Homo sapiens: one gene and its partners. The protein of the gene in region 1 purifies or fractionates together with the protein of each later gene. This does not show direct contact. Each region holds a gene or a part of one and is shown in the gene's direction. Other genes may lie near its edges. The genes, in order: RBSN, IFFO1, EHD4 and AVIL.

Region 1 (6,419 bases):
CCAAGACATTAGGAAGTTCCTTGTAGAACATATCGGTATATGCAATATTAAACAGAAAATTATATGTGTATTTAACGCTGCGTGAGATTCCAGTGTAGATGAGGGGAACAGACCTTAGAGGTTTAAGAAAAGTATACGGCCTGTGAATCTAAGATTGAGAAAATCTGATGCCCTAACTTATTCATTATATTTTATTTTTGAAAATCAGGGTCTCCCTTCCGCCCACATATACACAAAAACATGACTTGATTTTAGCAGTTGGATATCTTTGTCCTGAGGTGAGAAATTGGAGTGTCACTGGCACAGGGATAGAGGGACAACAGAGGGTGGGTGACAGTGTGGGCTGCTGCCAGCATAGTGACTGTTTCTTCTCTCTGCTTTGCTCTCTCCCCAGGCTGCCCTGGAGTCCCAGCGAAGGCTTGAGGAAAGGCAGAGTGGCCTGGCTTCTCGAGCGGCCAACGGGGAGGTGGCATCTCTCCGCAGGGGCCCTGCCCCCTTGAGAAAGGCTGAGGGCTGGCTCCCACTGTCAGGAGGTCAGGGGCAGAGTGAGGACTCAGACCCGCTCCTCCAGCAGATCCACAACATCACATCATTCATCAGGCAGGCCAAGGCCGCGGGCCGCATGGATGAAGTGCGCACTCTGCAGGAGAACCTGCGGCAGCTGCAGGACGAGTATGACCAGCAGCAGACAGAGAAGGCCATCGAGCTGTCCCGGAGGCAGGCTGAGGAGGAGGACCTGCAGCGGGAACAGCTGCAGATGTTGCGTGAACGGGAGTTGGAACGAGAAAGGGAGCAGTTTCGGGTGGCATCCCTGCACACACGGACTCGGTCCCTGGACTTCAGAGAAATCGGCCCTTTTCAGCTGGAGCCCAGCAGAGAGCCTCGCACCCACCTTGCTTATGCTTTGGATCTAGGCTCTTCCCCAGTTCCAAGCAGCACAGCTCCCAAGACCCCTTCACTTAGCTCAACTCAACCCACCAGAGTGTGGTCTGGGCCCCCAGCCGTTGGCCAGGAGCGCTTACCCCAGAGCAGCATGCCACAGCAACATGAGGGGCCCTCCTTAAACCCCTTTGATGAGGAAGACCTCTCCAGCCCCATGGAAGAGGCCACTACTGGTCCTCCTGCTGCAGGGGTTTCCTTAGACCCTTCAGCCCGCATCCTGAAAGAGTACAATCCTTTCGAGGAAGAGGACGAGGAGGAGGAAGCAGTGGCAGGGAATCCATTCATTCAGCCAGACAGCCCAGCTCCTAACCCCTTCAGTGAGGAAGACGAACATCCCCAGCAGAGGCTCTCAAGCCCTCTGGTTCCTGGTAACCCCTTTGAGGAACCCACCTGTATCAACCCCTTTGAGATGGACAGTGACAGTGGGCCAGAGGCTGAGGAGCCCATAGAGGAAGAGCTCCTCCTGCAGCAGATCGATAACATCAAGGCATACATCTTTGATGCCAAGCAGTGCGGCCGCCTGGATGAGGTAGAGGTGCTGACAGAGAATCTGCGGGAGCTGAAGCACACCCTGGCCAAGCAGAAGGGGGGCACTGACTGACCAGCAGTGGAGAGGGCACCTTTGGGCCCAGGGGTCTGGCAGGAGCCAGTGGAGCAGGACAGAGGGCAGGCAGGATGGATGGGGAAGGTGGCAGGGTGAGAACTCAGATGCACACAGGTGAGGGGCAGGAATCTGCTGTTTTGTGTTGCGCACTTTGAGGTATTTCCACTACAGTTGAATAATAAAATAGAAACTAGAACAGGGAGAATCAGCATTCAGTTGCTGCTTTTCCTGTTTATTATTACTATCTTTTGTAATCGGAGGTTTACCCCTTTTGAAGGGACTTTACATTTTTACTACCGAGATATAACTAAATGCAGCTCTGTTGGGCCCAGGGCAGAAATGGCTGCTGTGTACCTCTTGGGTCCATTTGCTACTGCCTAGTCTTGGTTCCTTATGCAGTATTATAGGGCAGCCTTTTTAGAGCCCTTCCTTTAGCCAAGACAGAGAAGATAGATTCCACTGAGCTCTATTCTGCTCTGACAGAAGTCCATCCCTAGTAGGCTGTGAGTTCCATTTCACCTGGGGCCGCCTCTCCCCTGCTCTGCACTTCCTGTCTGTACAATAGAAGGGGGAGGTGCTGCTATGAAGGGGAGAGTTTAGACCCAGGAGAGCCCAGCACCTCTTTTTAAGGTGGGGTGATGGGAATATTTCACCAGGGTCTATTTTCTCAGTTTAAGTTCTTTTTTGTCTCTTTCAGGAAGTTAAGCTCCCAGTGCAGGGTATCAATGTGAATCTGGTCCTGAGCTTTTTAGAAAATAAGAGTGGTGGCCGGGCGCGCTGGCTCACGCCTGTAATCGCAACACTTTGGGAGGCCGAGGCAGGCAGATCACAAGGTCAGGAGATCGAGACCACCCTGGCTAACACAGTGAAATCCCGTCTCTACTAAAAATACAAAAAATTAGCCAGGCGTGGTGGTGGGTGCCTGTAGTCCCAGCTACTTTGGAGGCTGAGGCAGGAGAATGCTGTGAACCCGGGAGGCAGAGCTTGCAGTGAGCCGAGATCGCACCACTGCACTCCAGCCTGGGCAGTGAGAGTGAGACTCCGTCTCAAAAAAAAATAAGAGTGGTTAACTTTTTGGTTGATATTAGTATTATTTGTGAGAAGAGTTTCCCCACCCTTCTTCTGATAGAACAATTGTCTGTCACTGGAGAAATCTCCCTCCAGAGCTTTGGCAAAGTTACTCTGATCTGGGTCTGTTTAAAAGGCCGGGTCTCTAATTTAGGAATCGGTGATTTGGAAGCTTTTGCAGAACATCACCAGAAGAAGGGAAGCTTCCCAGAGTCAGAAGCTAAATTAAAATAATTTCCAAGGCTATTTGATCAGCCTTCTTCCTTTTTGGTTCATTGTGTCCTGACTTGGGGCACTGATGAGATTTTTTATTTTTTTTGAGACAGAGTTTCACTTTGTTGCCCAGGCTGGAGTGTAGTGGCATGATCTCAGCTCACTGCAACCTCCACCTCCCTGGTTCAAGTGATATTTGTGCCTCAGCCCCCTGAATAGCTAGGATTACAGGCGTGGGCCACCACGCCTGGTTAATCTCTGTATTTTTAGTAGAGGTAGAGTTTCACCATTTTGGCCAGGCTGGTTTCGAACTCCTGGCCTCAAGTGATCTGCCACCTTGGCCTCCCAAAGTGCTGGGAATACAGGCGTGAGCCACTGTGCCCGCCCTGATGAGATATTTTATTACCAATGTTAGTATTGAGAAACTGAAATGTTTGAAGAAGCACAACCCAGGATCGTGCTGGTAGCACCACAGTACTTAAACTGTTGGTCAATTAAGGCCAGAAAGGGAAATTGTTAATTTAGCTCTGGTGCTTTGGTTTACAGGAACATAACTCTTAACTGACATCTGACATCATGATAGCCATATGTGCTCAGCTCTGGGTAGAGTTTCTGCAGTTACTCATCTGAACTAATGAACAATAACTGACCACTAGTCACTTTATGCCGTGTAACTAGCTCTAGGCCATACTTTCACTGGTTACTGGTGTGAAAGCTGAAATTCATTTTGTTACATTCTGGTGAAGACCCCTCTTGATAATGGGAATGTTTTAACTCTCTTGATGAAAAAATAATCTGTATTTGTGTTGATGTTCACATTTCTGTAGCACATTTCTTATCCTTTTGGTTGAATGAAAAGATCTTGTATAGGGGTGTGGAGATGGGGAGTGGGTAGAAGTGTGTGAAGGACGCTTTGCATTTGGGATCTGTTCACAAACAGCCATATGAGTGTGTTAATGAATGTCAGCCAGTTACCAACCCTGCTGGTTGTTATGGGTTGTTTTGAGAAGTTGGCAACCAGGCATCTAAGATGTTGCCTGGTACAGGCCTCTTTTCTTCCCTGAGGCCCATGACATTTCTCTGTTACTCTAGAGGGTTTCTCAGATGGCCAGTAGGCTCCTCCCTGCTTAGGGTCTCATTTCTCTGAAAAGAGGATGAACTGAAAAGCAGGTAGTTCCAGAAGCTAATTGCTGCTTTCCATCATAATTATTTTTCTTGTGAGAACATTTCTCTTTTAATTAGCTAGTGATTTTGATTAAGACTAATTCACTAAACATACCCTTCCCTCAAATCACCTCAGGTAGCAATCTGTAAGTAACTAAAAGCATTGAAAAACACACAAGAAACATTTTTAAAAACTATTTTTAAAGGCCTGGCCGGGTGCAGTGGCTCACTCCTGTAATCCCAGCACTTTGGGAGGCCGAGACGGGTGGATCACCTGAGGTCAGGAATTTGAGACTAGCATGGCCAACATGGTGAAACCCCGTGTCTACTAAAAATACAAAAATTAGCTGGGCGTGGTGGCAGACGCCTGTAATCCCAGCTACTCAGGGAGGCTGAGGCACGAGAATCGCTTGAACCTGGGAGGCGGAGGTTGCAGTGAGCCAAGATTGCGCCACTGCACTCCAACCTGGGTGACAAGAGCAAGACTCCGTCTCACAAAAAACAAACAAAACTGACTGATTGAATATACTAAACCAAACTAAAATCATATTCTTTTGATTAAGTTTATCCATGGCTGTATTCTTCTATGAATTCTTCCATTTAATTCTTCCACGATTATCTTCTCCTGTAAATACATCACAGGAGTTAGAATTCTCTACCCATCAGCTGTACCATGTCGCAGAATTCATGCAGGCACAAAGTTGGAGTTACAGAGATGGGTTGACAGCAGGCAAACTTGGCCTATGTATTATAACCACAACTTCAAGTTCTTACCTCATGTGAATATTCACCCTTTCTTTAGTCTTCCAAGGCAAACAGCCCCGTCTCATCACCAGATGAGCAAGGTCTTGATATGGCATAGCAGATCTCCCTAGACACAGATCATGAGAAAAGATGGAAGAGACTTAGGGATTCAGGCATCAGATGAAGTTGGCTTTTCCCTTTTATGCCTTGTTTGTATTTACCCTGTCTAATACACTAAGGATACTTACTCATTGTACTTGCAGCTCAATATGTCTTTGCTGTTCAGATACTAAAATGTACCTCTGAGTCATTGTGAGCTGTGTGGTAGGTTGGACATTGGCATAGTTGGTGATGGGACTCAAAATGAAAAGGTGGTCTCTTTACCAGGTCACAGACTGTAGCAGATTGTGCTTGTTATCTGACAATGACTGTCACTTTGAGGGTCGTTGATTTGCATGCACTACTCTGGGGCCTTGTATTGGAGCCTTTTTTAAAAAAAATAAAATCTGAGATAGAGGTTGGGGGTGTGTGTGTCTGTGTGCACATGTGTTACAAGTGAGAATCATCAGATGACATCCCTTCTCCTTTCTTGATGACAACCATCTGAGTATCAGAATAGTTCCAGCACCTGTGTTGTTTGTCTGGTTAAGGCCTCTGGAAAAAATGAAGGTCACTGGGTTCTGAACAGGGGATAGATACGGGTTCCAGTTCTGCCCTTATTCCCAGTTATTCCTGCAGTGCTGGTTAAATGAACAGTTTTACAGAAGTATAGTGCAGATCCCTTAATGATCCTATCATCCCAGTTTCACACTGGAAGAAACTGAGGCTCAGAGATTGAGGAACCTTGTGACTGCCATCTGTGCCAGTCACCACCTCTGCATGACCACATTTCCCTCCATTAGCACTACCAGCATGCCTGTGAGGTAGTTACTCAGCTGTTCATCTGACCCCAGACGTAGAAAAGTTAAGAGAGATTAGCCTGGCTTAGGCCACACAGCCAGTCAGTGGTGGAATGAGGGTTTAAATCCAGATCTGCCTGACTTAATTTGCCCTCAGTAATAAGTAGCTGGGTCAGGTAGTGGTGTGGTGGTGGTGGGTGCTCAACCATTGTGTCAAGCTCAAAGAGGGCAGAAAAGGGCAATGGGGAATGAGGTTGGGTGCTGCTGAGCTGGTTTCCGATAGTGACTGCCTGAGTCTGTGAAACTGAGACCTCCTTAGGGCCTTAAGAATATATAGATTCTTAAACCAGGAGAGTATAATATCTAGTGCTCACTGTAGGCTAGACTGAGTGCTAAGTATTACGCATGGCTTACCTCAGTCTTCCCAACAACCCATTTACACATGCAGAAATGAGTGAGTGGTGAAGTTAAGCTTGCTTAGGGTTGCACTGCTGGGTTTCCAGCCTAGGTCTGTCTGACTGCAAAACCCAAGCTGCCCTAGATTGTGTTGTATGTGGACACCCATGTTTCTAATGTGGAATGGGGTGTTTCATCCCTAGCAAGTGCCTCCTGTGGACTTTTAAGATGAAAAACTTCTGCCTAACTCTTCAGGAAGCCTAGCGTAGTTGTAAAAATACTTCAGAAAGCACTTCTGGTTTTAGCTCAGACACGTAGAGTTTGAAAGTTATCCTATCCTTACCACAAGAAAAAGCTGGGCAAACTCAAAAGCATTGGCCTTTCTTGGT
Region 2 (7,843 bases), on another chromosome or scaffold:
CACTGACCTCCTGATAGCTTGGGTCCAGTTGCTGTCAACTGGAACGTGTTTCTGTTCATGTCTCCCACCCACACATTCAATGCCTTTTCTATCTTAACTAAGCACTTAGCGTGCGCTGTGGCGGTACCTTTTGCAGTTCGAGGTGTGACAGCAAAACTGGCACAAATTTCTTTTTCCTTCTTTACAATTTCACGGATAGAAGATTCATTCTTACTGTAGAGCTTACCAACCTCAGCATCGGATTCTTTTTCTTATTAAGTTGAAAACTTTTACCTTTTCACTTAAAGGGAGCATATTTTGGCTTCTCTTTCACATATCCAAATTGCCAGCATCACTACTCTTGTGCTTTGGGGCCATTATGAAGTAAAAATAAGGGTTCCTTGAACACGGGCACTGCCATACCACGACAGTCAATCTCATCACTGAGATGGCTCCTAAGTAACTAATGGGCAGGCAGTATAGACAGTGTGGATCCTTGGGACAGAGGGAGGGTTCATGTCCTGGTCTGGATAGAGTGAGGTTTTTTTTTTTTTTTCCGAGACGGAGTCTCGCTGTGTCACCCAGGCTGGAGTGCAGTGGCTTGAACTCGGCTCACTGCAAGCTCCACCTCCTGGGTTCACGCCATTCTCCTGCCTCAGCCTCCTGAGTAGCTGGGACTACAGGCGCCCGCCATCACGCCCGGCTAATTTCTTTTGTATTTTTTAGTAGAGATGGGGTTTCACCGTGTTAGCCAGGATGATCTCGATCTCCTGACCTCATGATCCGCCCACCTCGGCCTCCCAAAGTGCTGGGATTATAGGCGTGAGCCACCGCGCCCGGCAGAGAGAGTGAGATTTTATCAGGCCACTCAGAACAGCGTGCAATTTAAAACTTAGGAATTGTTTATTTCTGGAATATTTCATTTAATATTTTCAGATCAAGGTTCACCTTGGGTACCTGAAGCCGTGGAAAGTGAAACCAGTGGATAAGGAGAGAGTGACTTTATTCTTTTCATTTATTTATTTATTTATTTATTTTTTTGAGACGTAGTCTCGCTGTGTCGCCCAGGCTGGAGTGCAGTGGCGCGATCTCAGCTCACTGCAAGCTCCACCTCCCAGGTTCACGCCATTCTCCTGCCTCAGCCTCCAGAGTAGCTGGGACTACAGGCGCCTGCCACTACGCCCGGCTAATTTTTTGTATTTTTTAGTAGAGACGGGGTTTCACCATGTTAGCCAGGATGGTCTCGATCTCCTGACCTCGTGATCCACCCGCCTCGGCCTTCCAAAGTGCTGGGATTACAGGCGTGAGCCACCGCGCCCGGCCTTGACTTTATTCTTATTGCTGTCACATTGGAGGTGTTTGAGAAGGAAGTCGAGAAATTATTTTCCTATATACTCATTCTCCCAACACACATCAAACTGTCCTGCTCCTGCATCAAACCTGGTTTTCTTGGCCAGGTAGATGAGGTTTCCTGGATTTGTGCTGCTAGCTAAAGACATGGCAAGGGAAACCAGTACTCCCCACCCTCCCGTCTACCGCGGCTCACTGTTTCCTCCTCCTGCCTGACCTGATTCTTGTCTCCCTCTTTTGGATGGTGGATTTAAGGTTTGTGTTTTCACTGTGCCTTCAACCAACTAGGGGCCTTTGTGCGGCCATCTTCGTGAGAAGAGATCTCGGGCTGCCATCTCTCCCTAGTCTTCCCTGGACCTCAAGTGCCCAGTGTAAAACATGATCTGAAAGAACGAAAATAATATCTTAAATGGAATCATGCCTTTTAAGCTATTTTTGGCTGGGCGTGGTGGCTCTCGCCTGTAATCCCAGCACTTTGGGAGGCCAACGCGGGCAGATCACTTGAGGTCAGGAGTGTGAGACCAGCCTGGCCACCAACATGTGAAACCCCGTCTCTACTAAAAATACAAAAAGTAGCCAGGCATTGTGGTGGGCACCTGTAATCCCAGCTACTTGGGAGGCTGAGGCAGGAGAATTGCTGGAATCTGGGAGGTGGAGGCTGCAGTGAGCTGAGATTGTGCCACTGCACCACAGCCTGGGTGACAGAGCAAGATTCCATCTCAGGAAAAAAAAAAAAAAAAGTATTTTCAAATCATCTGACTCCTCCTCTCTCCCAGTGCAATGACTTTAGGCAGCAGTCCCCAACCTTTTTGGTACCAGGGACTGGTTTGTGGAAGACAGTTTTTCCACTGACCCGGGGGAAATGATTTTGAGATGATTCAAACATTACATTTATTGTGTACTTTATTACTATTTTTAAAAATTATTATTATTATTTTTAGAGACAGAGTTTTGCTCTTGTTGCCCAGGCTGGAGTGCAATGGCGCAATCTTGGCTCACTGCAGCCTCCGCCTCCCGGGCTCAAGCAATTCTCCTGCCTCAGCCTCCCAAGTAGCTGGGATTACGGGCATGTGCCACCACGCCTGGCTAATTTTGTATTTTTAGTAGAGATGGGGTTTCTCCATGTTGGTCAAGCTGGTCTCGAACTCCCGACCTCAGGTGATCCACCACCTCGGCCTCCCAAAGTGCTGGGATTACAGGCATGAGCCACCGCACCCGGCCTGTGCACTTTATTTCTATTATTATTACATTATAATATATAATGAAATAATTATACATCTCACCATAATGTAGAATCAGTGGGAGCCATGAACTTGTTTTCCGCAACTAGACGGTCCCATCTGGGGGTGATGGGAGATAGTGACAGATCATCAGGCATTAGATTCTCATAAGGAGCACACAGCCTAGATCCCTCGCATGCACAGTTCACGTAAGGTAGGGTTCAGGATCCTGTGAGAATCTAATGCCGCCGCGGATCTGACAGGAGGTGGAGCTCAGGCTGTAATGCCAGTGATGGGGAGCAGCTGTAAATACAGATGAAGCTTCACTCACTTGCCCACTGCTCACCTCCTGCTATTTGGCCTGGTTCCTAACAGGCCACAGACAGGTACTGGTCCGTGGCCTGGGGTTTGGGGACTTCTGCATTAGGGGAACCGTTAGGAGGACTTGCTGACCTCAGGAGTACCCAAGGTGCCTTTATCTTTGTGACCTTTGATCTCTCAGGGTCACTAAGATGGAGCAAGGTAAAGCCAAGGCCCAGAGTGGTGGGCGGGAGGCAGTTCTTCCCCACCGCTCCTCACCTCTCTCTGTCTCCTCCCGTCCCACCCCCAAGTCTGTTCACACAGCGAGCCTGCAGTTTTCAAGGTGGCTTGTCAAGGACATCTCCTGACATGCACGTTCACCTCCTGACCTTGTTCCTGCTGTAAATTTGTGAATTAAGTGGGGACATAGACATATGCAGAGACTACTGGTGGCAGTACTAGCCTTGTATTTCAGTAGAATATATTTGGTTCATTTCCTTCTTCCCAGTCTCCCTGAGTGATGGTTCCAGAACCCAGCTCCCTGCACTCCGGTTCTTCCAAGGTGGAGAAATTGGGGTGTAGGCAGCTGATCTGAACAAGGGCTGGTGGCACTGTATTTTCCCCCTGGGTTGAACAGTCACCGTGTCCTGCTCCTCCCACTACTGTGGGGCCCCAGCTGTGGATCCAAGCCTGCCAGGGAAGCTGTCCCCACTAGGGCTTCTCACCCAGCCAGCCGCCATCTCACCCCAAATGTCACTGTCCTGACCATCTCTGCTGTCTGGCCCTGTAACCTGTTTCCTTCTTTCTCTAAGTTCCCACCCTCTCTGTCCAATCCACATTATGGCAGCTGGTATCCTCCCCGTTCTCTTCACTCAGGCAGTCACGAACGTCATCTCCAGGAAGTTTCATTTTGCTTCCCCTTGCGGCCCCTGCCCTTTGTACCCAAAACAAAGAGAGGCAGTCGACTGTCCCTGGCACTGAGTTTGTGCTGCCTGGGCCCTGCCTCTCCGCCTGCCTCAGAGTGTGGGCTGCAGAATGGGCCCGGGGAGGGAGACCGGATTTCTTTGATTCTGAGCCCCGTGTTTTCCACGTGTGACATTTCTGAAATCAGGACAGGTCTCAGAATCAATGGCACCTCCAATATGGGAGTCTTCCTTTTAGTGTCTGAAAATGGCTTTTAGGTGAGAAAATAAAGTGATAAGGAGAGAATGGTAAGAGGATTGGGCCCCTTTCAGCAGTTAGCCAGGCTTGTATGCCACGGGTCACAGAGAGAGTTAATTCCCTTCGAGGTCTGGGTCTGCCAGGATGAGGAAAACCTGTCGCTAACCCTTACGGGAGCTCACAGTGCAGTGAGGGGACAGCCCAGGACCAGCGCAGTACAGGGGATGAGGGGTGAGCCGGGCCCCATAGGAACCTGTGTGGCCCTGGGAGCCTGTGGATCTGCTCCATCCCGCCCACACTGACTTTCCTCACCACTCTTATCAGTCTTAAAAGAACACAGCCTGCAGCAGTACCTTTGCATTCCTCCATAGGCAAAGATTTCCAGGAAAAGCAGAGGAAACAATGGTGTATTCGCTGCCTTCTGCCTTGGTCTGGTTTATTTTAAAATCTGAGCCTTCAGTAATGGCTGCCTGGGCCCCCGGCCCAGCCACTGCTCTTGGCGTGTTGGCCTCCTGGCGGGGGCAACAGAGGCGCTGTGAACGCCACCTGTTAACCCCGATGGCCCTGCCTGCCCCACCACAGCTGGAGTTGGCCACGGCCAAGAACGACATGAACCGGCACCTGCACGAGTACATGGAGATGTGCAGCATGAAGCGCGGCCTGGACGTGCAGATGGAGACCTGCCGCCGGCTCATCACCCAGTCTGGAGACCGGTAGGCGCCTCCCCTGGGCATGGGGCCTTCCAGGGGGACACAGCGGGGAGAAAGGTTGGAACACAGCCCCAGAGACCCTCAGGCAATGACTGGGTCACATCTTGCTGTGGGGCTGCCCTTTGGGAGTTACCTGGTGGGGCTGGCCCAGACCCACAGCTCTCTCCCTTGGCAGTTGGATGAGCTATGTCCATTCATGACGGGAGGGCTGAAACCTCCCAAGGCCACCAGCTCTGGTGGTTCCCCTGGTTAGAGGCAGTTTAAAAACTGGCAAGGAACAGAAGGGTTGTGGGGGCAGATTTTTATCTAAAGTCAGGGCCATGATTTGTGCATTTGACCCTGTGTAAGTTACACCGCAACAAGAAAGTGAATTTTTAAAAATCACAAAAATACTGCAGATAGACATAAAGCCAAGGCCCTAGAGTCAGGGTGCTGGAGGCTCAGCAGCTTCTCTCCTACTGTGACTTCAGCTATTTCTTTTTTTTTTTTTTTTGGCTCACTACAACCTCCGCCTCCCAGGTTCAAGTGATTATCTTGCCTCAGCCTCCAAGGCGCCCGCCACCACACCTGGCTAATTTTTGCATTTTTAGTAGAGATGGGGTTTCACCATGTTGGCCAGGCTTGCCTTGAACTCCTGACGTCGTGATCCACCCGCCTCTGCCTCCCAAAGTGCTGGAATTACAGGCGTGAGCCATCATGCCTGACCTCAGCCTCTGAGTTCCCAAGACACAGGCGGGGCCCATTTCCCTGTCAGGGTGGGTTTGGAGAGAGTTCAGTCCCTGCCGCTCCCTCGCCATCCCGCGGCCCCGCCCTCGCTTCCGGTACTTCTCACGGGCTGCCAGAGGGTGAGGCAGCAGGAGGAGGAGTGCCGTCCGTCTTCAGGATTCCTGCCTGCCCCAAGGTTGACAACTGGTGTTTTTTTCTAGAAAGTCTCCTGCTTTCACTGCGGTCCCGCTTAGCGACCCGCCGCCGCCGCCAAGCGAGGCTGAGGACTCCGATCGCGATGTCTCATCTGACAGCTCCATGAGATAGAGACCTGCCTCCCCCTTGCACCCGAGGCCCTCGCAGCAGGGAGCTCAGCGAGGCAGAGGGTGGGGCTGCACAGAGGGGAACATCAGCTGCAGCTCTGCACCAGGCCGGTCCCTGGGGACTGGGGCGCTCCTCCCTCAGGCTTTCTCCCTCAGTCTTGGCTTCTCCAGGGCTCTGGGGTGTCTGGAGCTAGGCTTGGCCCTACCATTCTGGGGCCATTTCCACCACAGTTGGGGCTCTCCTGCCTTCACGCGTGGGTGTCTGCTACTTCCCCATCTTTAAAATGCTGCCAGAGCGATTGCGGCCCCTCACCTTGTCCACGTATCAGGAATGTGAATGTGGGACCTTTCCTCCATCCCTGTTGTCCGGAGCCAGCTCACTGTCTTCCACACTGGTGCTAACTGGCCCAGGCACTGGAGTGGAATAGAATGCAGCTGGAGGCTACGCATGGCCTCTGCAGCACACGCAGCTGGAGAGGGCTTCTGTCCCTGTCAGCGGCAGAGGGCGTTGGGGCTGGCCGGGGCACCTTGTCCCTGCTATGGTCCACGTGCTCACGCTGTCCACCTGCCAGGTGGAGTGTATGTGGCTGTGGCCCTCCCTCGTGGAGGTGCCGTGCTTTAAAGAGGCCTTAGTGCCCGGGATGGGCACAGTGTTTTGAAGGGAGGTGGGAGCTCTTGCTCTCCTGGTCACTGCAGAATGACAGAGAAGGTGAAGCTCCATGCATGTGTGCGCGGGTGTATGTGCGCTCAGGGTCTCTGTTTAAGTATCAGCTAAAGATGTGCTTCCTCCGTGTCTGTCATACACTGAGACCAACAGGCTACAGTGTCCCTGATTCTTGGAAAAGCCTGGAGAAGCTGGGGAGATGCGGTTCACAATGCCTCGGTATAGGAGGCTGTGTTGAGCTGACATTCAAATGGATTCTTTAATAATAATGAAACTGGCGAGTATTTATTGTGCACTTTGGTGTCACTGTCTCAAGCACTTCCTAATATTCACTAGTTTGAACTCTGAGGTAGGTACTTTTTTTTTTTTTGAGATGGAGTCTCATACTCTGTTGCCTAGGCTGGAGTGCAGTGGTGTGGTCTCAGCTCACTGCAGCCTCTGCCTCCGGGGTGCAAGCGATTCTCCTGCTTCAGCATGCCTGTAGCTGGGACTATAGGCATGTGCCATGAAGCCTGGCTGATTTTTGTAATTTTAGTAGAGACGGAGTTTCACCATGTTGGCCAGGCTGGTCTCAAACTCCTGACCTCAGGTGATACACCCACCTTGGCCTCCCAAAGTGCTGGGGTTACAGGCGTGCGCGCTCTACCGAGGTATGTACTTTTGTCTCCACTAGGTAAGCACACGTGCAAAGTGAGGCCCGGGAGTAACTGCCCAAAGCAACTGAGCCGTTCAGTGGCAGAGCCAGGGGTCTGGACCTAGGTCCCAGCTACACGCCTTGCCCCTACCCAAGTTCCCCTAAGGACGATGATGGAAATAAGTCACCCTGACACATCTCAGTTCATCTTCCTCAAAACTATGCGAGGTGGGCATTTTTACCGATTTTTAAACATTATATAGTCCTTACCGCCTTGGGCATGGTTTTAGGTACTTGGTTTACCTAGATGAATCCTGCTTGAAGACCTTAGGGGCTGGCCACGATGTCCTCAGATAAGACACGAGGGCACAGAAAGCAATAGAGCACGTGCTCAAGACCTCACAGCTGCGGAGGCCAAGCTGGAATTGCCCGCTGCAGCTCAGCTCCAGGCTGAGCTCCACTAACCAGTCAGCGTCAGAGCCCAGTGCGAGCCCTGACTTCCTCCACCTGTCAGCCTCCCTGGGGCTGCCCACAGAATAGCTTCTTCCATGTTTGGCCAACAGCAGATAGCCTAGGACTGGAGCGAGGAGAGGAAAAGGCCTTGTTCTCTGAAGTAGTGGTGCCAGCTTCCTGTAGCACTCAAGACGTCTGAGCGGGAAGCAAATGGTTCTCGAAGCAAGCAAGGCTGTTTGGAGGCCCTACCCTCAGTCTGAGGAGAACATACCAGGTCCCTCCCCAGCAAGAATGTCTCACCTTGACACAAGCCCAGCTTCCCTCCCCTCTGCCCCAGACCCTAG
Region 3 (7,843 bases), on another chromosome or scaffold:
TAGACTCTGTACTAGCCGAGGAAGGATGGATATGGAGCTCACCCAGGCTTGTGTCCAAAACTTGAGGAAAACAGATTTCAAAGATTCCTCCAGAAAATCCCTGGCCCCAGGTGCTGTGAAGGAAGACATTTCCACTGAAAAAGTATGAAGTCCATTTGAAATGAATGCAAACTACACAATTTTTTTTTTTTGAGACAGTTTCGCTGTTGTTGCCCAGGCTGGAGTGCCATGGCATGATCTCGGCTCACCGCAACCTCCCCCTCCCGGGTTCAAGCAATTCTTCTGTCTCAGCCTCCCGAGTAGCTGGGATTACAGGCATGTGCCACCACGCCTGGCTAATTTTGTATTTTTAGTAGAGATGGGGTTTTTCCATGTTGGTCAGGCTGGTCTCAAACTCCCGACCTCAGGTGATTTGCCCGCCTTGGCCTCCCAAAGTGCTGGGATTACAGGCGTGAGCCACCGCGCCCCATCCCAAACTACACATTTTTAAGAGCTCCACTTTCTCCCTTCATATGCTCTGTTCCCTCTCCCCAGAAAACTTATTCTAATGAGGAAAAAAGAGGGAAGTCACTCAAGAAACTATATAGGCTTTAAAAGGGTAGAGAGCAGGGAAATAAGGCAAGAAAAGAAATAAACTCCCAGACTGGAGAGAAAAAAGTAAAACTCTTTGCAGATGACATGATCTTCTATGTAGAGAATCCTAAGAAACCACTTAAAAACTATTAGAACAATGGGGGAAACTATAGTTCAACAAATGGTGCTAGGACAACTGGATAGCCGCATGCAAACGAAATAGAGAATGACTGTTAGTGGGCGTGGAGTTTCTCTTTGATGTGATGAAAATGTTCTGAAATTGGATAATGATATTGGTTGCACAACTTTGTGAATATACTAAAGGAGTGCACCCTGTAAAAGAATAAATTTTCTGGTATATGAATTATATCTCAATAAAAAACCAAAACAATTCAGTCTTTCAACACTAAGCATCATGTGATTTAATTTTCATGATTCTGCAACTAGCGCCAGCCAAGTAATTTCTGCATCTATGTGTAATAATTTAAAATAGAAATGGATGCCAGAAAGAAAACAAAGTAGAAATAAGCTAGAAGAACCCAAGGGCAAAGGAACTAAAGAGTAAAGATGAGGGGCCAGGTGCAGTGGCTCACACCTGTAATCCTAACACTTTGGGAGACTGAGGTAGGTGGATCGTTTGAGCTCAGGAGTTCAAGACCACCCTGGGCAACATAGTGAGACCCCATCTCTACAAAAAAAAAAAAAAAAAGGAGTAAAGATGAGGGAAAAGGGAGTGAAAGTAGCCATCCCACAATCCCTGTATGAGTATTCTTGTCAATGTATAAACATGTTCATTGTTCATAACACTCAAGTTGGTAAAATCAAAGTATGATAAAAATTTTTAATAAAATGCTTGATACCGTAATTGTGTTTAAAAACTTTAGATATTAACATTTAACTATAGTATTTAATAGGGGAAAAAAGGGGCAGGGGTGCATGTGCAAGGGTGCAGACAAGGTTTATGGGCGGTATGAAGGATCAAGAAGCTGGAGTGGGCTGAGAAGGTAAAAGTGCCTTGGACATTAAAAAAGCCTTTTAAGGTATGATTAGAACAAGAACAAGAATCAGGAAGTGATCGGCCCACTCATGGGCTCTTGCTGCAATATTAACAGAAAGCAGAACTACTCAGCTTCCTCCTTTTCCTCAAAGAAAATGCCCCAGAGATGGCAGAAGGGAGCCCAGCTGTGTTCAAGAGGGGATTAAAACCACAGGCTGAGGAGCTCTCCCAGGGCCTGCCACAGGCGAGGTTCAGGAAATCTCTGGCCGGACACATGGATGAAAGAACTTGCATTTCTGCTCAAAGAACTGTATTTGGTGGCTTTTAAGAAATTGTGAAGAATATGAAAAGTATTGGAACACTGGAAGCAGGCAGATGTTCTCATTTTCAAAAAAGCAGGGAAATGGATTCTGAATAGGAACAAAGGCCTGCTTCATTCCCTTGATAAGTTTCTAGACTCAGTAATTAAGGAAAAGGGAAGTGAAGGCATTCACTAATAGGCAGCCTGGTTCATCTATTTTTAAAAAAATAAAATCTCACACAGAAAAACTATGGGTCCTATTTAGTGGTTCTCACACTCATCCAGATACTGGGGCTCCTGAAAATCAATCTTCTGTTCCAAATATTATACCCTTTACAGATCTCTCTAAAATATTGAGATATTTAATTTTTACAGAAAATTAGACTATATTTTCAATATACAATATAAGATCACACCTACAGATGCTAGTGTTCATTTATTCAAATGATCTTGATTTCAGGGTTGGGGCCAGCCATCACAGAAGAGAGTCAACAGGCCACAGCTCTGAGTGACAAGGGCTGTAACACTAGAAACACAGGGTGGCTGGGGGCATAGGAGGGACCCCCTCATTCAGGCTTGCGGGTTGGAAAAGGCTGCCTCCCTGAGAATGCAGCCTAAAAGCTGAGCCCTGAGGAATGAGCAGAGAATTAGCTGCCCAAAGAGGGCCAGGGAGTGAGGGTGGGGAGGTGTCACCCATGAGGCCTCGGTTTCTGGGGTAACTGGGGAGTACAGCTGTTCACTGAGATGGGGATCCAAGAAGAGGAAGGATGGGGCATAATGATAAGTTTAGATTTAGACCTGTCATGTTTGAGTGGACACCAAGGTGGCGATGTCCATGAGGGGTAAGACATGGGTCTGGAGCTCAGGGAGATATCTGGGCTGGTCTGTTGACTTGGGAGTGTCAGCATTTAGTAGCCAGCATCTGGGAAGTAGAAGTCCTTGCACAGGACTCTTAAGTGAGAGGAAGCAGAGCTTGTGGAGACCCTCCGGGGAAAGTACCAAAGAGGTGGGTAATTGCCTGGGAGGGTAGTGGCTCAGTGCTGTCTCAGATCTCTTTAGGTTGCAAGTGACAGAAATCCAACCAAAGCTAGCTTAGATAAAAAGATAAGAACGTTTTCCTGAAACCCATCAGACCAGGATGTGCAAGCTTCAGGCTTGGCCCAGGACTGCAGGAGACACACCAGGACTCTGTTGGCTCTGTGGCCCTCCTCATGTTGTGTTCCTTCTCAGGGGTGGGCAGGCGGCCACCTCCATTTCCAGCCTCGAATTCTGCTGGCTCAGCAGCCCCAGTAAAAGTCTCAGGCTTGAGTCTCATTGGTTTGACCCTGACCATATGCCCATCCCTGAACCAATCCTTAGGGGCAGGGGCATGAAATGTGGGGAGTGGGGAGGTCAGCCCCACCAACCACGTGGCCTGAGAGCTGGGGAAGGCAGCTCCTGAGGATGCTGCTACCAAGAAAAGGGGATACGAGGCAAGTAAAGCAACGATGACCCCCACAAAAGCCAGGGAGAGAGGTGGTGGTCAGTAGTGTCAGATGCTTCCAGGAAAAGGACTGAAACAGAACCAGTAGATTAGCCTTTGGGAGCCAGGTGACCTTGCCAAGAGGTGTGCCTGTGAGTGGTGGTGAAGGAAGCCAGATGGCGCGGGTTGAGGAATGAGTGGGATGTGAGGCGTCAAATTCTCAGCAGCTAGGCCTGGGGGAAGGAGGCCTGGCCACAAGCATCACAGGGGTTTGGGTAAAGACAAGCACAACCTCAGCAGAATGAAAAGTGGACAGAAGGGAAGCCATGGAGAGGGAGCAGCTGGCATCTCAGAAGACAAAGAGGAGGCAAGACTTGGAGCAAAAGTCCTGAAGAGCAGGGCAAGGAGCTGCAGGGTAGGCGGGGCTGGGTGGGGTGGTGGGGGTAGGCAGGAGGTGAGTAGGTGGGGCGGGGGGTGGGCAGGGGAGCGCTGGCAGCTGCAGTCCGAGCAGGGAAGCGCTGCAGGCCAGCAGCTGGGCCAGTTGTCACATCATCCACCTGACAAGCAGCAACAGAGTATTTGGAGAAATGTAGGAGGGGGAAGGCTTTTTCCATCCTGACATTATCTTCCCTAACTCACATTCAGAAGCTGACTTACAAAAGGTGTTCAATGTCCTTTTCAAAACCTCGAACCAGAAGGCCGTGGTTCCTTCTGCACGTGGCTGTGCATCAGAATCACTTGGAGGCCTTTTGACACGGATTCCAGGGCCCCACCTCAGACCTCCTGAGTCGAAATCTCTGTGGGTCAGGCTCCAAAATCTGTTTTTGTTTTTCTAAACCATCTCTCACAGTAATTCTTATGTGCCCTCCCCTAGGAAACATTTGGGAACCATTGCCAGATGAAGGTTCAGTTAATGGAGGAATGGAAGAGGGCTAGCCTCAACCCAGAAAAGGGAGGCTGACTTTGCTGAACCTTCCATCCGTTCCAAACCCCATCTGTTCACATTTCTCTCAGTGACTTAGATGAAGACATAGAATTCATGCTTACAAAACTGAGGATTGTGTAAATATAATTTAATAAATGGGGTTCTTTTTTGCTTAATATGATACGATGAGCATTTTCTTATGTCATTATATAGTCTTCAAAAATAACTTCAATGACTACATCATAATCTATAGTACAGGTTGGACATTTAGGTTGTTTCTGTTTTTATGCTGTTATACATAATGTTGCAATGAACTGAACATTTTTGGCCATAAATCTTTGTATTTCTAGTTTTTTTCTTAGAATAGCCTAAGCATAAATTAGTGCCTCAAAAAATATAGATAATAGGCTGGGCGCAGCAGCTCACACCTGTAATCCCAGCACTTTGGGAGGCCAAGGTGGACAAATCACTTGACTCCAGGAGTTCAAGATCAGCCTGGGCAACATGGTGAGCCCCATCTCTAAAAAAAAATACAAAAATTAGCCGGACATGGTGGTGCATGCCTGTAGTCCCAGTTACCTGGGAGGCTGAGGTGGGAGGATCACTTGAGCCCAGGTGGTCGAGGCTGCAGTAAGCTGAGATTGCACCACTGAACTCCAGTCTGGGCAACTGAGTGAGGCCTTGTCTCAAAATATATATATATATTTTTTTTTTTTTTCAGGCTTATATATATTCCTAAATCTATGTATCTATCTTTCTTTTTTAGGACAGTTATTCCAAATTAGACTCCCACCAGAAATATGAGGATCAGTAATTCACCAAACTGCCAGTAAAACTAATTAAAATTAATTTGATAGGAAAAAAAAGTGTTTTAGATAGGGTCTTGCTCTGTTGCCCAGGCTGGAGTACAGTGATGCCATCATAGCTCACTGCAGCCTCAAACTCCTGGGCTCAAGCAATCCTCCCACCTCAGCCTCTGGAGTAGCTGGGACTACAGGTACATTGCACCACCACACCCAGCCAATTTATTCATTTTTTGTAGAGTTGGGATCTCGCTGTGCTGTCTAGGCTGGTCTCAAACTCCTGAGCTCAAGCGATCCTCACGCCTTGGCCTCCCAAAGTCCAAAGTGCTGGGATTATAGGCGTGAGCCATGGGGCACTCAGCCAGAACAGACTTATTTTAATTTGTTTATTTCTTACTAGTGACGTTGAACTTATAAAATATAGTTGTCTTCCATATTACTTTGTGAATTGTCTGAATTGTCTGTGAACTTTGTCCAATTTTCATTTGAAGTGTTGGTCTTGTCCTTTTTTTTTTTTTTTTTTTTTTTTTGAGATGGAGTCTCACTCTGTCACCCAGGCTGGAGTGCAGTGGCGCGATCTCAGCTCACTGCAAGCTCTGCCTCCCAGGTTCACGCCATTCTCCTGCCTCAGCCTCTGGAGTAGCTGGGACTACAGGCGCCCACCACCACTCCCGGCTAATTTTTTGCATTTTTAGAAGAGACGGGGTTTCACTGTATTAGCCAGGATGGTCTCGATCTCCTGACTTCATGATCCACCTGCCTCGGCCTCCCAAAATGCTGGGATTATAGGCATGAGCCACCGAGCCTGGCCCTGGTCTTGTTCTTATAAATAAATGTAAATGTTTTTCTCAGTAACAGATATCAATCCTTTGTCACAGTTGTAAAAGTGTTTTTCCAGTTTGAAATTTGCCTTGTAATTTTTGTAATAGTTTTTCCATGCAGATATATTTAATATTTGTGATCAAATCTAACAATTTTTCCTTTTTTATAATATCTTTTATTTTTTGGTTAGAAAATCCTTGTTTATCTTAAGACTCAGGAAATGTTCACTCATATTCTTTTTTTTTTTTTTTTTGAAACAGACTCTCACTCTGTCCACCCACACTGGAGTGCAGTAGCACGTTCTCGGCTCACTGCAACCTCCACCTTCCAGTTCAAGCGGTTCTTGTGCCTCAACCTCCCAAGTAGCTGGGATTACAGGCATGGGCCACCATGCCTGGCTAATTTTTGTATTTTTTAGTAGAGACAAGGTTTTGCCATGTTAACCAGGCTGGTCTCGAACACCTGACCTCAAGTGATCTGCCTGTCTCGGCCTCCCAAAGGGCTGGGATTACAGGCGTGAGCCACCGTGCCCTGCCTCTTTTTTTTTTTTTTTTTTAGTATTTATTGATCATTCTTGGGTGTTTCTCCGAGGGGGGGATTTGGCAGGGTCATAGGACAATAGTGGAGGGAAGGTCAGCAGATAAACATGTGAACAAGGGTCTCTGGTTTTCCTAGGCAGAGGACCCTGCGGCCTTCCGCAGTGTTTGTGTCCCTGGGTACTTGAGATTAGGGAGTGGTGATGACTCTTAAGGAGTATGCTGCCTTCAGGCATCTGTTTAACAAAGCACATCTTGCACTGCCCTTAATCCATTTAACCCTGAGTGGACACAGCACATGTTTCAGAGAGCACGGGGTTGGGGGTAAAGTCATAGATTAACAGCATCCCAAGGCAGAAGAATTTTTCTTAGTACAGAACAAAATGCAGTCTCCTATGTCTACTTCTTTCTACACAGACACAGTAACAATCTGATCTCTCTTTCTTTTCCCCACATTTCCCCCTTTTCTATTCGACAAAACCGCCATCCTCATCATGGCCCGTTCTCAATGAGCTGTTGGGTACACCTCCCAGACAGGGTGGCGGCCGGGCAGAGGGGCTCCTCACTTCCCAGACAGGGTGGCTGGGCAGAGGCGCCCCCCACCTCCCAGACGGGGCGGCGGCCGGGTGGGGGCTGCCCCCCGCCTCCCTCCCGGACGGGGCGGCTGGCCGGGCGCTCTTTTTAAAATAGGATTACTTTTTAAATATTTAACTTTTTAACCCACCTGGAAGTAAAATCTGTCTCAATTATATTGTTGTGGGTTTTTTTTTTTTTGTCTTTTGTCATTTTCTAACACTATTATTAAATCTACCTTTTTCTGCTGTCACATGAGGCTTCCTCATACGCTAAGTTATTAAATACTATATTGAGTCTGTTAGGACCTTTGTCTCGTGTTATTCTGTTTGTAAATTCTTATGCCAACACCATACCATCTTAAATATTGTCACTTTGAAATACTTTTTAATAATTTTAGCTCAAGACTCTTCTGCGTGCATTACTCTTTATTTTTCAAATGCTATCAATTCTCATTTTCTGTCATTCTTTGAGAAGAACTTTCTTAGTTAGGTTCTTCAAAACAAACAAAAAAAAATCCCACTGGGATCCATTTGTCCTGGAACTGCATTCTGTCTCTAAGTTACATTTTTGTATTTGCTCTTCCCAAGCAGCAGCTCACCATTGCTTTAACGCAGACCTTCTTGGAAAAGTGATTGATTTACTCATACAGGTCCTATGGAGCTCTTATTAATGTATTAGGTATTTTATGCCCTGTTGCTCTTATGAATGGGCTTTTTATTTCTCTTATTTTTTTTGGCAGGGTATTGCTGATATGTAAGGAAGCTACTGAGTTGTACATTTTTGTTTTATATCTGGTCATTTGACTCAAGAAGTTATTCTGACAGCTTGTCAGTAGATTCTCTTAGGTT
Region 4 (7,843 bases), on another chromosome or scaffold:
GGGAAGCAGCTCGGCAGAAAAACTGGATTGATGCCCACTATGGCAAGAGATATCATCTCCCCTCTTGTTCTGTGATGTTTCAGTCCTGGAAAGACAAGCATCATGCCTCTGACCAGTGCCTTCAGGGCTGTGGACAACGACCCTGGGATCATTGTCTGGAGAATAGAGGTGAGCTGGGCTGGAGGCACCTTACTTGTGACCACTGGCATCTGGAAGCAGTCTGGCTGCCTGGGGCTGCTAGGCAACAGCCCGCCAGCACCCCTTAGCCTATGGTTTGAGGAGAATGAGAGGCAGCATCAAAGTACCTATTTCCCATCCTTCACCTCTCCTGGGTGCTCAAAGCAGGTGGTTGGCAGGTGGAGGAAATGTTCAGCCCCGAAGAACAGGGCTCCAGACAAAAACAGGCTTGTCCTTTAGCCAGCCACCTGCTCAGTGAGTCTGCACTTGCAGGAAACACCCTGGAAAGACAGGTGGGACCTACTCAGCAGACTCCTGGCAGCTTCCATCAGAGAAATGGAACATGTCTTCCACGGGGCACCCTGGCTCCTACAAAATATGGGGAGAGGTGAGGGGGCACTGCAGAGATGAGGAGCTGTTCAGCCCGTCTCCTCTTGGGCTTGGGACCCTCTGTGCGGCTGTGAGCTCCAGCAATCCATAGCTGGGAACCACCCTGGCCTGGGTAGCTCCACCTGCCAGATACGAGGATTCCCCCCAACCCCTGCCCTGAGCCCAGTCAGTTGCTGCTGCCTAAAACCCAGCGATGATGCCTCACTTCACTATCCTCAACCAGGAGGGGGAGTCAGCTCTCCAGCAAGCCTCGCAGAGATTGTGAGTCCCAGGTCACTTCCACTGTTTGAAGGCTTCCAGTTTCCTTAAAAACTAACAGGTACTGGCGGGGTGCGGTGGCTCACGCCTGTAATCCCAGCACTCTGGGAGGCTGAGGCGGGTGGATCACGAAGTCAGGAGATTGAGACCATCCTGGCTAACACAGTGAAACCCCACCTCTACTAAAAATACAAAAAATTAGCTGGGCATGGTGGCAGGCGCCTATAGTCCCAGCTACTCAGGAGGCTGAGGCAGGAGAATGGCGTGAACCCGGGAGGCGGAGCTTGCAGTGAGCCGAGATCGCGCCACTGCACTCCAGCCTGGGAGACACAGGGAGACTCCCTCTCAAAAAAAACAAAAACAAAAACAAAAAACAAGTACTAAAACACGGTTACCAGATTTGCAGTATATTTAACATTTATCACATTTTACATAGAACACACACAAGTATGGCCGCAAGTTTCCCTCACTTGGGGAGTGTGATGAAAATCTACATCAAGGCTGTGTGAACAGTCCTCCAGGGCCAAGCCATACATGCAGTGATAAATCAGGGCCCTGACCCAGACTCCAAATATAAGACACTTGGCACAGAGCCCTGCTGACCGCTGGCACTCTCCAAATGTTATCCTCCACCTCCCACGGCCCCACAGAATCCAAGTGTTCTTTCTTACATGGGCCTGGGCCAGCACCCAGTGGTCAGCGTTGGGAAGAGCGTTGGAGGTGCTGGCACAACGGCTCAGAGAAGGGTTTGTACTTGGTCGTTTATATCCAGCAAAGGGCTGGAGGTGGTTCACAGGTTTCCCACAATAGTGCGAGATGAGATCGGGTGGGAAGTAGAGTGGAGAATAGGGCAAGGGAAAGCAGGATAGGGACCAAGGTTCAGATCCGGGGTGATGCAAGCAGAGCTCACAGAAGCCAGAGGGATGGCCACGTTAACCCTGTGGCTGGCAGCCTCACATCCTGTAAGGTCATTGAGAACATCTCCCCTCCTTCTCCCCACCACCTGCACCGAATGACAGAGAGGAGAGGGAGGCTCATGGGGAAGGGAGGTGGGAGGGGATGTAGCCTATACCCACCCCTTGTCCTTCCAGAAAATGGAGCTGGCGCTGGTGCCTGTGAGCGCCCACGGCAACTTCTATGAGGGGGACTGCTACGTCATCCTCTCGGTGAGCACCCTCCTCCCCACTCCTGTGAGCCTCTCCCCTGGGGCCAGTTCTTGGGCTGTACTGGGAGATGTGCTGGTGAGGGAAGGTAGTCAGTCCCTGGTATCGGTCTCAATGGTTCCTCAGTGCTATGCAGAGCAGACCTCCAGTCTGACTATCAAAGGCCATCATTAAGCCTGGGTTTTTAATGCTGCATAAGAGGATGGGGGTAGGACCCTCAGTCTGAACCTCAGTGAGCCACCCACAAGCAGCACTTCTCCCGGGCCTAGGCCCCACATTAAAGTGGTGTGGAAGAAGGCCTGATAAATGCAAGGCCTGTCTCTAGCCTCAAAGTGCTATTCTCATGGAGGAGACTCACATGAACGGTGCTGACAGGGTCGTGCAGGTGTACAGATGAGCACTGTGCCAGCTGTGTGAGTGCAAGGGACCAAGGGGACCTGTGAGGTAAGCCTGCAACCCGGCTGGGAAAAGATCCCCGTTGGTATCTATTTATTTGGGGAACAACAAGCTGTCAACTTTCCCCAAATGCGGGGAGGAATTTGGGCTGCCAAAGTTTATGCCATGATCGCAGGTCTGCTCGGGGGCCAGGGCAGCTCCCACATCCACTGCAGGAGAGAGGGCCCTCAGTCTGCCAAGGGCATGCACATGTGCTGCATTCTCCCCATAACAGGGGCCAGCAGCAAAGGGGAGGTGAGCTGGCCTCTGACCTGATCTCTCTGACTACCTCCCAGACCCGGAGAGTGGCCAGTCTCCTATCCCAGGACATCCACTTCTGGATCGGGAAGGACTCCTCCCAGGATGAGCAAAGCTGCGCAGCCATATATACCACACAGCTGGACGACTACCTGGGAGGCAGCCCTGTGCAGCACCGAGAGGTCCAGTACCATGAGTCAGACACTTTCCGTGGCTACTTCAAGCAGGGCATCATGTGAGTAGGGGTGCACAGAGCAAGGACAGAAACAGCAGTTTACAGAGGAGGAAACCCAAAAGGCCAACATGCATTATCAAGAAAGTAATCAGAGAAATGCAAATCAAAACAAAGCTGTCACTTCCACCCACTAGAGCAGCAGATTAAACAGCTGGGAGGTGCCAAGTGTTGGCAAGGCTATGGGGAAATAGGAGCCCTTGTGCCCTGCTGATGGAAGTGTGGACTAGCGCAGCATCCTGGAGAGTAGTCAGTGCCACTTGCAAATCCCACTTCTGCATGTGTAACTCACAGAAATCCTCACGTATCCAGGTCCATAAGGGCACATGGACCAGACTGTTCATAGCAGCCTCATTAATGATGTTAGGAAGCTGCAGGCAACGTAGGTGTCCATCACTCGGAGACTGGACATGCACACCACGGAGTATTATGCAGTAGCCAGAAGCAACAGATTAGATACACACCTAACACAAGGACAGAGCTCACAAACATGGTGCTTAGCACACAAAGTAAGAAACAGACTAAGACATATAACAGAATGCCAATTTCTGTTTTAAAAAGCACACGCATGGCCAGGCATGGTGGCTTACGCCTGTAATCCCAGCACTTTGGGAGGCCGAGGCAGGCGGATCACGAGGTCAGGAGTTCAAGACCAGCCTGATCAACATGGTGAAACCCCGTCTCTACTAATAATACAAAAATTAGCCGGGCATGCTGGTGCACACCTGTAATCCCAGCTACTCGGGAGGCTGAGGCAGGAGAATCATTTGAACCCAGGAGGCGAAGGTTGCACTGAGCTGAGATCATGCCACTGCCCTCCAGCCCCGCAACACAGCAAGACACCATCTCAAACAAAACAAAACAAAACAAAAACATGCACACAAAACAACAGGATGGGTTGGGCGTGGTGGCTCACACCTGTAATCCCAGCACTTTGGGAGGCTGAGGCAAGAGGATAGCTTGAGCCCAAGAGTTCAAGATCAGCCTAGGCAACACAGTAAGACCCTCATCTCCACAAAAAATATTTTGTAAAAAAGCTAGCCAGGCATGGCGGTGCACTCCTATAGTCCTAGCTACTCCATGGGCTGAGGGTATTGAGCCCTCAATTATCGAGCCTGCAGTCCCTGATGAGGATCACTTGAGCCCGGGAGGTCAAGGCTGCAATGAGCCATGATTGCACTATTGAACTCTAGCCTGAGTGACAGAGTGAGACCCTGTCTTTAAAAAAAAAGGTGGGGGACACAGTTTACTAGAATGAAAATAAAAAGGTCAACAGTTAGAATGGAAGCGTATTGGGGAGAGGAATGGGAGTAGGACAGGCAGATAAAGGGAATGCACAGACACATAACACTAGAGAGGGAGCGAAGGCTGATGATAATGTTCCATCAACTGAGAAGTTTAACTCAAAACTTTGCCCCTGATATTAAAACAAAAAGAGGAATTCCAATGAGCTTGAGAATTGTGAGGCTGGGCCAAGATCAGCTTCTTGCAGGTCAGCAGTCTCCACTGACTGAGGCCCTTCTGGGCACAGAGGAGCACACTGAGCCACTGGGGAACCCAAGGACAGAGCCCCTCTGCTCCAGGGCTACCTTCCGCATTCCCTTAAAGTGCAGGACCCCTGGCTCGGAGGCTGGGCTGGGCTGAGTGCAGGGCGGGTGAGCTGATTCCTAGGGTAGGTGGTCTTAAGGCCGTGGAGTCATTAATGCTTCTGCTGCAGCACAACTTGTATCCCTCTCCCAGTAACACACTGGCATTCAGACAGTTCCTGGAACAAAACAAGCCCTCTGTGGTGCAGGGGTCTTTGTCACTGATGTCTCCTGGACACTGTTATAGTGCCTGGAGCACTATTCTTCTGGGTATTGGTTCATTTTCCTTGTAGTATCTCAGTTCAAATGTCATTTCTTCAGAGAAGACTGCCCCAACTCGCTACCAGAAAGTCACTCACCCAGTCTACTTGTGGGGCAGCAGCTGCCACCATCTGTATTTACCTTGCTGATGTACTGTCATCACATGAGTGAGGCTGCATCTGTGTAATTCACCACTGTCTCCCCAGAACCTAGCACATAGCAGGCACTCAAATAACTGAATGGATGTTCCCTTAGCTACAAGCAGGGGGGTGTCGCCTCTGGGATGAAGCACGTGGAGACCAATACCTACGACGTGAAGCGGCTGCTACATGTGAAAGGGAAAAGAAACATCAGGGCTACCGAGGTTAGTCCTGCACACTCTCTGCCCCAGGCCCGGGGCTTCTCCACCTGGCACCTAAGAATTCCTCCTGAACAATGTTTACCTCTCATCGACAGGTGGAAATGAGCTGGGACAGTTTCAACCGAGGTGATGTCTTCTTGCTGGACCTTGGGAAAGTCATCATCCAATGGAATGGCCCAGAGAGCAACAGTGGGGAGCGCCTGAAGGTATGGCTTCCTAGCCTTAGCACTTTCTCAAGTTCCTCTTTCTTCTTCCCTCCATGCTGGCTCTTCCCCAAGAATCAAGGTGGAGCCCTGCCTTTGAGTAGAATCTGTCTTGGAGACAGGCCAAGTGTGTGAGTTTGTGACTCACCCTGGACTCCTCAGCATCCAAGTAACTCCTGTGTCTGGGATCTAGGCTGTTCTCCCCAAAGACATCAGGCAGAAAGGGGTCCCAGAGGAGCTGAGGGCTTCCTTGGGCTTCTTTGACAGGCTATGCTTCTGGCAAAGGATATTCGAGACAGGGAGCGAGGGGGCCGTGCTAAAATAGGAGTGATCGAGGGAGACAAGGAGGCAGCCAGCCCAGAGCTGATGAAGGTCCTTCAGGACACCCTTGGCCGACGCTCCATTATCAAGCCTACAGTCCCTGATGAGATCATAGATCAGAAGCAGAAATCAACTATCATGTTGTATCAGTGAGTAGCTCAACCTGGTTTTAGCTGGAAGCTGGGGTTGGGGGGAAGGTGTCCCCTAGAACACCAGCCACCTCTGCTTGGCTCCTTGTTTTGGGTGTAGCCATCTGGTTTTCTTCTTAGTCCTTTTCAAATGCAGCTCCTAGAAAGCTTGGAGATCCCCCACTCAAGGAGGCAGTTCTTGTTAGCAACTCTCCTGATCTCTTGAGGAGACCTTTCCTTTACTCTAGCCTACACATGCCCAGGGATGTGGAAGGGATAATGTTTGGGAGAGAGATGAACAAAAGTCTCCACCAAAGAAAAGAGTCTGCACATTCCTGTCCTCACTCAAGTCATGGCTGTCTTAGGCAGTCACACTCTACCTAGAAACTCCAAACTAAAACCAAACCAGAACAACATCTAGTTGACTACAAGATGCTTTATAGAGGAAAAGGCACAGGCTAACCTCTCCCCTTCTCCAGTATCTCAGATTCAGCTGGGCAGCTGGCAGTCACAGAGGTAGCAACAAGGCCTCTGGTCCAGGACTTACTGAACCATGATGTAAGTAGAGTTTGGGTGGACTTAGCTTGGGGTAGCCAGACATGCTTCAGAAGCAGACCCTGTGCAAAATCTTCCTTCTGGTCTTGAGCAACCATACCTATCTCTGGCTGCTTTAGGACTGCTACATCCTGGACCAAAGTGGAACCAAAATCTACGTGTGGAAAGGAAAAGGAGCCACAAAGGCTGAAAAACAGGCAGCCATGTCTAAAGCGCTGGTAGGAGCTACAGATGTGCAATACTGTTCAAATAATTCTGCTAAGAGCACTTCAGGTGTGTCACTCCACAGAGCCATGCTAGGTATTTGAGCATATAACATTGTGCTTACGTACATGGACTGCAAAGTCAGGCAGACAAACTGGGATTCAAATCCAGGTTTTGTCTTTTCCAGCTGTGTGCTCTGGGGAAGACATACTTAACACCTGTGGGCCTCAGTTTCCCCATATCTAACATGGGGGTCATACCCATCTCCTAGGGTTATTGTGAGGATTAAATATCATTTGTAAAGCACTCAGGGCCGGGCGCAGTGGCTCACGCCTGTAATCCCAGCACTTTGGGAGGCCGAGGCAGGTGGATCACCTGAGGTAAGGAGTTCAAGACCAGCCTGCCAACATAGTGAAACCCTGTCTCTACTAAAGATACAAAAAAAATTATCCAGGCATGGTGGCGCATGCCGGTAGTCCAGGCTACCTGGCAGGGCACTGAGATAGGAAAATCACTTGAACCCGGGAGGCTGCAGTGAGCCGAGATCACGCCACGGCACTCCAGCCTAGGTGAGAGCGAGACTCTGTCTAAAAAAAAAAAAAGCACTCAGAACAGTTCTTGGCACACAGTACCTGCTGAATAAAAGGTGGCTGTTATTATTGAAGGGGATATCACATATCAAGGTTAATGGCCCTGTCCTCAAGGAGCTTATATTTGTGCAGATCCATGCAGATGAACCAAGCCAGAAGCAATAAATGAGCAAACAAATGTGATGCAAAGTCAGTAAGGACAAAAGTACTGAAAGAACACAGCATAATCATCCTAAAAATTAACAACCATAATCACCGCAAGCCAATAAACAGATCCAAAAATGTTCCACTCAGTCATTTTTTTTTTAGGCAGGTACCTTGGTCCTTAGACAAAAGTGAGTTAGAATTTGACTCTGACTCCCAGAGGGGAGACGCTTATATCATGTGGCTTCATAGAGGTGAATTACCAGACAAGCAAAGAACTCAGTGTATTCCACCACTGACCTGCCTTTGGGAATGGGTGGCTCTGCAGGGCTTCATCAAGATGAAGAGCTACCCCAGCAGCACCAATGTGGAGACCGTCAACGATGGTGCTGAGTCGGCCATGTTCAAGCAGCTGTTCCAGAAGTGGTCAGTAAAGGACCAGACCATGGGCCTGGGGAAAACGTTCAGCATTGGTAAAATTGGTGAGACTGCCCCCAGATCATCCTCTCATTGCTAAGACTCTAGAAAAGCAGGCACAGATGCTTCTTACTCACTCGGCTTTTCCCAACCCTTTCTC

The links.
Region 2: the proteins of RBSN (region 1) and IFFO1 purify together in Homo sapiens (affinity purification with mass spectrometry; 2 studies listed by BioGRID and IntAct, with this or other methods). This does not show direct contact.
Region 3: the proteins of RBSN (region 1) and EHD4 purify together in Homo sapiens (affinity purification with mass spectrometry; 2 studies listed by BioGRID and IntAct, with this or other methods). This does not show direct contact.
Region 4: the proteins of RBSN (region 1) and AVIL purify together in Homo sapiens (affinity purification with mass spectrometry; 2 studies listed by BioGRID and IntAct, with this or other methods). This does not show direct contact.

What each region holds. Positions count from the first base shown.
Region 1 is NC_000003.12:15,068,906-15,075,324, reverse strand, and holds the end of RBSN (rabenosyn-5), read left to right. Parts: intron 1-394; coding exon 395-1,543; 3' UTR 1,544-5,252; downstream 5,253-6,419. UniProt on the Homo sapiens protein: Rab4/Rab5 effector protein acting in early endocytic membrane fusion and membrane trafficking of recycling endosomes. Required for endosome fusion either homotypically or with clathrin coated vesicles.
Region 2 is NC_000012.12:6,538,392-6,546,234, reverse strand, and holds the end of IFFO1 (non-homologous end joining factor IFFO1), read left to right. Parts: intron 1-4,381; coding exon of another isoform or gene 4,382-4,462; exon of another isoform or gene 4,463-4,585; intron 4,586-4,592; coding exon 4,593-4,723; intron 4,724-5,646; coding exon 5,647-5,752; 3' UTR 5,753-6,696; downstream 6,697-7,843. UniProt on the Homo sapiens protein: Nuclear matrix protein involved in the immobilization of broken DNA ends and the suppression of chromosome translocation during DNA double-strand breaks (DSBs).
Region 3 is NC_000015.10:41,961,893-41,969,735, reverse strand, and holds part of EHD4 (EH domain-containing protein 4), read left to right. Parts: intron 1-3,620; exon of another isoform or gene 3,621-3,748; intron 3,749-7,843. UniProt on the Homo sapiens protein: ATP- and membrane-binding protein that probably controls membrane reorganization/tubulation upon ATP hydrolysis. Plays a role in early endosomal transport.
Region 4 is NC_000012.12:57,808,300-57,816,142, reverse strand, and holds part of AVIL (advillin), read left to right. Parts: exon of another isoform or gene 1-83; 5' UTR 84-102; coding exon 103-168; exon of another isoform or gene 169-886; intron 887-1,916; coding exon 1,917-1,991; intron 1,992-2,719; coding exon 2,720-2,916; intron 2,917-5,015; coding exon 5,016-5,124; intron 5,125-5,216; coding exon 5,217-5,327; intron 5,328-5,591; coding exon 5,592-5,794; intron 5,795-6,252; coding exon 6,253-6,331; intron 6,332-6,417; exon of another isoform or gene 6,418-6,447; coding exon 6,448-6,546; exon of another isoform or gene 6,547-6,559; coding exon of another isoform or gene 6,560-6,601; intron 6,602-7,594; coding exon 7,595-7,748; intron 7,749-7,843.